Homo sapiens: one gene and its partner. The protein of the gene in region 1 purifies or fractionates together with the protein of each later gene. This does not show direct contact. Each region holds a gene or a part of one and is shown on either strand. Other genes may lie near its edges.

Evidence for each region. The genes of interacting proteins can lie anywhere in the genome.
Region 2: the proteins of DHX34 (region 1) and FBXO38 purify together in Homo sapiens (affinity purification with mass spectrometry; one large-scale study listed by BioGRID and IntAct). This does not show direct contact.

Annotation. Positions count from the first base shown.
Region 1 is NC_000019.10:47,373,315-47,376,814, reverse strand, and holds part of DHX34 (probable ATP-dependent RNA helicase DHX34), read right to left. Parts: intron 3,217-3,500; coding exon 3,115-3,216; intron 1,350-3,114; coding exon 1,107-1,349; intron 892-1,106; coding exon 718-891; intron 373-717; coding exon 255-372; intron 1-254. UniProt on the Homo sapiens protein: Probable ATP-binding RNA helicase required for nonsense-mediated decay (NMD) degradation of mRNA transcripts containing premature stop codons. Promotes the phosphorylation of UPF1 along with its interaction with key NMD pathway proteins UPF2 and EIF4A3.
Region 2 is NC_000005.10:148,390,458-148,393,957, reverse strand, and holds part of FBXO38 (F-box only protein 38), read right to left. Parts: intron 1-3,500. UniProt on the Homo sapiens protein: Substrate recognition component of a SCF (SKP1-CUL1-F-box protein) E3 ubiquitin-protein ligase complex which mediates the ubiquitination and subsequent proteasomal degradation of PDCD1/PD-1, thereby regulating T-cells-mediated immunity.

The DNA.
Region 1 (3,500 bases):
CGGTGCTCACTCTCTGGGCACAGCCACACTGGCTTAGGTTGACTATCACCACCATGCGGAAGGTGAGGCCCAGCAGGGGTGAGTCACCCAAGGCTACCCAGGGAGGCCTGGCCCTGGAACTTCCCCTCCTGTGGGCCCCCGTCAATACCAGCCTGGGCCGGTGTGGGAGCCCCAGCCAGAGGGGCCTGGGAGTTCACGGTATCCCTGCCCCTCACATCCCGGATGGGGGTTCCTTCCGCCTGGGCTCACTGTACCTCGGCTTCCGTCGCAGTTGCTGGCCTCCAGCTCCTGTGCGTGCAGCACCTCGGGGCTGCCAGCGAAGACGCAGGTGGGGTGCAGCACGGCGCCCTGCTTGGCCTGCGTGTGGAAAATCTGCGGAGGACAGAGAGAAAGCACAAGCCCTCCTATCTGCTCTCTCCTCTGCCCAGGATGCCTCTCCTCCACCCTCTGGCCCAGGTTCCCTCCTCCAGGAAGCCCTCCCTGACTCCTCCAAATCTGGGGCAGATGCCCCCTGTGGGCTCCTATAGTGCTCTTGACTCCCCAAGCCCTGCCCACTCTGGGTTGTCTGGGGATGGGTCTGTCCTCCCACTGGGTTGTGAGCCCCATGGGGACAGAACCAGGGTTGTTTCAGTCACCACTGCATTCCCGGCACAGGACAGGCACTCAGGGTTCGTGTGTTGGAGGACAAAACATAGGATGGGGCAGAACAGGCCCCACCTGGTCTGAGTCCTTTCGGCTGCTGTTGAAGGCGTCGGGGACGGCCAGCTGTGGGTACAGGCCCCGGCCCAGCACCAGCTTCAGCAGAGCCAGCTGCTCGCGGCTCAGGTCCTGGGCTGAGCTGGCAGCGGCCTGCAGCTGCGCCAGGTCATGCCGAAGCTTGAACTTCACATCCTGGGGGGAGCACGGGGAGGCAGAGTCTTAGGGGACCTGAGGGGCTCCTACCATGATCCGCAGACCCCCAGGCTCTGCAGATACCTGGGACCAAGCACCGTCCATGGAAACCCGGCTCCTGAAATGAGGACAGGGCCATGTCCCCTGGGACCCCCCCAGGAGAGGCCAAGGCCCACCTTGGTAAACCCCCACACCCCACAGCCCATGGCGCCCACCTGGATGTCCACGCCATCACTGGCCCCTGGGGGGGCTGGGCCAGCCCTGTCCTCGTCACTGGAGCCGCCGTCCTGCTCCTCCTGCAGCCGCAGCACCTTGCGCCTGCGCCCCGCGCCCTCCTCGTGCTGGCGTTTCAGCTGGTGCAGGGCCCGGCGCTCCCGGCGCTGCTGCAACCGACTGTAGCTGTCCCCTACCTGCGCGGCCTGGGCCCCAGCCAGCAGCCCGTGGTCCTCCAACAGCTCCTAGGGGCAGGTGGGTAGGGGTGAGGGCCTCAGGGCAGACTCAGTGGGCTCTGGACTCATGGAAATGGGGACCCTCCCAGTGGCAGGGCTGCTAGTGCCCAAAGGGGGCTGAAAACAGCCCCTCGCATGGTGCTGGGCATGGATCGCTGCTCCAGAGAGAGAGCTGTCCTCGCTGGTCAGTGGAGGGAACACCGGGGCCAGGGGCAAGAGGAGGCAGGTGCGGGCGTCCAGTGCCTTTTCCCACAGCTGGCTCCAGGCTCTGCTGACTGCCCCACCTGCCCCTTGGGTCTGGGGGGCCCTGCTTTCCCACACAGCCCTGGTGGGCGTCCTGCACTAGTGCTTCTGAGTGTAGCCCTGGGGCATCTAGGCACATGCTGGGAATGCCAAGTCCTGGGCCTCATCCCAGAACGACCAAGTGGAGAGAGGAGGGGGCTCGGCGGGGTTGGCCATCTGGACCCAACAGACCCTCCAGCTGCCTGTGACCCATAAAATCTGAGACCCCTGCCCTCCCCGTGCCCACATCTTGTCAACATTCCTCAAGTGACCCAATTTGGTTGGACCTTCTGTTTCCTGCTGAGCCCTGACCGATGGAGGACACAGGAGATTGTGCGTGCATGTGTGTCTGTATGTGTGCATGTGGGTGCAAAGGGCTCACACTTTCCATTAGATTCTCAAAGCATCTGGGGACCAATGAAGCCTGAACACTGCTCTAGCAGCCAGAGAGAACTCGGGACCCATGCTCAGAGCAATCGGGGCATCTGTGGTCCCCAACACCGGGACCCCAGAAATGGTACCGGAGGTGTCGGCTGGGTGACTGCCCCCTCTGGGCCTCAGCTTGCCCATCTCCAACCAAACAGAATGGATTACACCAGGAACCCTTTTATTCTATTCTCAATCCATGGATACAACCATGGAAAAGGACCTAACAGCAGGTCTGTCTGCACTCAGATGGAGAACAGTATCTATGAAACAAGCTGCAGAACTGTGTGGGCGCAGGAGAAACCCAAATCTTTTTTTTTTTTTTTTTTTGAGTGGAGTTTCGCTCTTGTTGCCCAGGCTGGAGTGCAATGGCTCAATCTCGGCTCACCACAACCTCCACCTCCTGGGTTCAAACGACTCTCCTGCTTCAGCCTCCCAAGTAGCTGGGATTACAGGCACGTGCCACCATGCCTGGCTAATTTTTGTATTTTTAGAAGAGACGGAGTTTTACCATGTTGTCCAGGATGGTCACGATCTCCTGACCTCGTGATCCACCCACCTCGCCCTCCCAAAGTGCTAGGATTATAGGCGTGAGCCACCACGCCCGGCTGGCAAGTGCTATTTTTATCCTCTCTTTTTATCGAGGGGAAGCTGAGGCCCAGAGACAAGCAGTAACACACCCGGGGCCACGCTGTCAGAAATGGCAGAGCTGGGATCTGTGGCTGAGGTGTCTGGCTCCAGATGTGCCGGCCAACCACAACCGTAGGCTGCCTCCAACACCATGCCCATGCAGCCAGCTCAGCATCCCCAGTCCGGAGGGCGAGCTCTTCCCGAGGATGCTGCATGTCCACTGACTCGGTCCACCCCTCCAGGAAGCCCTCCTGGATTTCTGCTCCCTTTGCTCTGCCCAGCTGCCCCAACACCTGGTCACCGGGTGGTGGGGGAGGTGGGTGCAGGGTGGGATTCTGGTCTGACCACTGTCTGGGAAGGGGAAGCAGTGTTCTGGAGTGTGCTTACACACGTCTGCCTGAGTGGGGCCGGCCTTACCCCTCCTCCCGAGCCTCACCTTGAACTGGCGCCGAAGGTTGGCCATTTCGTACAGTCGATGCTCCTCTATGCCCCGGCGGCGGCACCACTTGCGAGAGTTTCTGCTCCGTTCAGATTTCACCTGGGTGGAGGAGCAGACGCCAGGGTGTCAGGGCCTGGCCAGTGCGGGGAGGGAGGGGCTGACCGAGCACCCAGAGCCCCAAAATGGGCATCCCTCAGGGACACCTGCTCTCCTGCTTCCAGGTCTCAGCCCCAGTGCCCCCTCCTATGGGAAGCCCTCCCAGACTACCCACAAACTGGGTTAGATGCCCCGCTGGGTTGTCCCAGCCCCCTGGACTCCCCATTCCAGCCCTCTCTGGGTTGTCACTGTCACATCAGTGGTCTGTCTCCCTGCACTGGGCTGTG
Region 2 (3,500 bases), on another chromosome or scaffold:
GGGAAAGCAGGGAGAAAATGGGTTGCATGAGCACCCAGATGGTTTTCTGTTCTATTGATCAGCATGTGGAGTTAACACCTTGATTGTCAAATTGTCTAGGAATATTTTAATAATGTTGGTACAGATATAGGGAAGTTTATAGGAAATATTGGTCTCTTTTATATTAATGGCTTTGTAGATGGAGGAGGCACAGGATGACAGCTGAAAAGAGGTGCATTCAGATTCATTTAAATATGCCTTGGCACATTTATTTTGAATACCACTTATGTACTCTGGGCCCATTGTAAACAAACGGCCCAGAGTTAAGTGGAGATACACAATTAAATAACCACGCAAATGAGCTCAGAATTGCACACGGAGATAACTGCTGCAAAGACAGTAAACACAGTTGTGAAGCCTCATATAACAAAGGGGCCTGAGTCACTAATGGTTCTCCTGAGGGAAAGACAATTGAGCCCATAACTGAAGGGAGAGCAGGAATTAACACTGCAAAAAGTAGGAAAGAACTCACTAGGAGAAAGGCACCTGGTGGGCAGAGGGTACTTTAAGTATATGCAGTTCCTGAGGTTTTTTTTGCCTCAGCAGTAAATGGACACTCTACTAGGCTAAGTAAATCTTCATCATTTCTTCTGCCTGTGTGTGTGTGTTCTGGTCTCTTCTTCCCTCACTGAAAGGTTATGTGCTATTTACTTCTTGAGGCTGTCAGCATGCTTGCCTCTCATCACACACACACACACACACACACACACACACACACACACACACACACCCCTCTTCTGTTGTTTCTAACCAGTACGGCCTGAGAAACCAGAGAAATCAATGTGTGTGGACTGGTATATGGGCTATGCTACCCTGAATTTGTGACATGTGTCTTAACTTCTCAGAAGCTTACTCCTATGTTGTCTATCACATTTTGGCTAAGAGGCCTCCGGAAAAATAAAGTTCATACTCAGAACTGCCCAAGCTAAAAGAAAAGCTATAAATAAACTCACCTGCTTCTGATTAACCACTGCCCACCTTTTCTTGTTTACTGCCCTGCCTCCTCCAAATGAATCTTTCCATCTTATGATAGCTCCTGAAACCTCTAAGGTTACATTGAACATGTAGTCAACAAATCCAATAGCCTCTTTCCAGTGCTTCCCCATCTGACCCATTTGTATTATGGGACACCGCTGACCACTCCTTTGAAACCCTCTCATCCTTTGGCTCCGAAAGTGATATTCTCGATTCTTGTCGTTCCTCTATGACCACTGCTCAGTCTCCTTTGCTAATTTATCCTCGAGCCCTCTTCTCCCTGGGCAATTGTACTCATTCCCAAGGATTTAGCTATTACAAATACACACACACACACACACACACACACACACACACACACAAAGAAAAGCAAAAAAAGAAAAAATTTCCAACTCTACTTCTTACCTCTCCTGAGCTCTGAACTTTATTTCCTCTGCCTATCAGAAATTTTCACCTCAATAACTTGAACATCCTTCAAAAACACTATGTTCAAAATGAACTCCTTCATATCACGAACCCTCCCCCTCCCCAAAACAAAGATACACAGATATATACAAATAAACACACCTATTTCCCTAATGTGTTTTACTGAATTCCTGAATTGTAAACCTTGAAATCATCCTAAATATATTCTGATTTCTCATTTCCCACAGACAATTGATGGGCTATTTTTATCAATTTTATCTCAATACAGTTCTTACATCCATTCCCATTACCTTTTGGGACTCCATTAACATTCACGTGCACTACGGAAATGGCTTCCTAAATGATACCCATCACTGTATCCTCAGGGTCGAGGAAAAGCTTAGCAGACACTATGCCTGCCATAAGTAATTTATTGAATAAATGCTTACCATGCTATACTCTATACTGAAGCCAGTTATCTTTTTAAAACAGTCTCCTGATTTATAGTGTTAAGTGAAAAAAGCAAAACACAGACTACATCTAAAGTATGATTCTAACAACAACATAATTTTAAAAATTAAAAAGATTACCCCCTAAAACTTTTTTTAAAAAGTATGATAAAAAAGACAAATATACTGTGTCTGCATACAACATTTTATGAAAGAAGACAACAAAATATTAACCGGTAACCTTTGAGGAGTGATAACAGAGGTTTAGGAAAGCAGAAAAAAACTTTTACTTTTCACTTCATATTATTCTCCATCATTTGAAATTTTCAGATTGTTTTTAAGAAGTACAATATACATGGCCAAGCAAAACAAAACAATCGGCCTACAAGGAATCCTGGTTCAGAGGATAAAATATTTCCAATCTAATCTCAAAACACCAGATGTTCCAATCTTATCTTCTTCCAATCCTTACCACTTGCTCTCAGTATACTCACTCTAGCAGACCAGTATCTTCTTAGTTCCCCCAAACAACCATTGGTGTTTCATTCCTAATATGCTTTTAACTCTGACTGGAAATGTCCTTCTTTTCCCTACTTTGCCTAGAAAACTGCCTGTAAAAATCTAGCTTAAATGTAAGTCCTCTGTAAAAGCTTCCCCTACTGACTCCTTCATTTGAGCTCCCTGTGGGACTTAACATATGCTTCCACAGCAGTTTGTGTAGTGATTTATTAGTCATGTTTCTGCTAAAAAATCTTGCCTCTAGGTGACAACAAGTCCTTGCTCACAATATATCCTCAAATATCTAATGTATGAATATCCACCAGTCTTTCCATTATTCTATATACATCCAGTAGCTTCGAGGCTGCTGCTAAAAACCATTTCATGCTCTTATGAGACGTTTGCTACCACAGCATTCAATGATCTCAGCAACAAACTTATAACCTAGACAATAATGCAATCAGATTTTACTGCAGTGACACACCTAACAGCTACTCTGTAGCATGTAAAAGCCTCAACAGGACGATTAACCAGCAAAGACTAATCCACCCACAAATTACCTAGATGCTCAGACCAATCCACCAGTTGTTATACTTTAGCACATGTTCAGCTTTAAGAATCTTGACAATCCTTCATCGAGATGATGCTCGATTCTTTATTCCTTTAATAAAAAGCTTTTTTTTAATCCCTTCTTCCTCCTTTTTCTTCCTCAAATTCACACCACCTAATAACACCTTCCTCTACTGATTCCACCTTTGATTGTTCCTTAGGATTCTGCAATGTGGTGCTTTTGTGTGAATTAGATTTAGTAGCCCTAGTGCACAAACTATACGTAAATTTTTAGACTAAATACCCTGCACCTTAAATATCATTGAGTTTATAAAACTCCACTTATTGAGAGTTAACAAATATTTACTCACAGAAATGATGTTATACAATATTATACTGAGGTTAGATCTCCAGGAAGCTGACAAAAACCTTCTTAACCTACAATATCCTTTAACACTAACTAGCAAAAAGCCTAAATTTTAAATTAGCAGGACTGACAAAATTTTAGGTAAAACTATTCCTGTTTCTTACATCACGGCTAGAATTGAAGACTTGGGTCTTTTAGTTCTTACCAGGCAGGTGAAT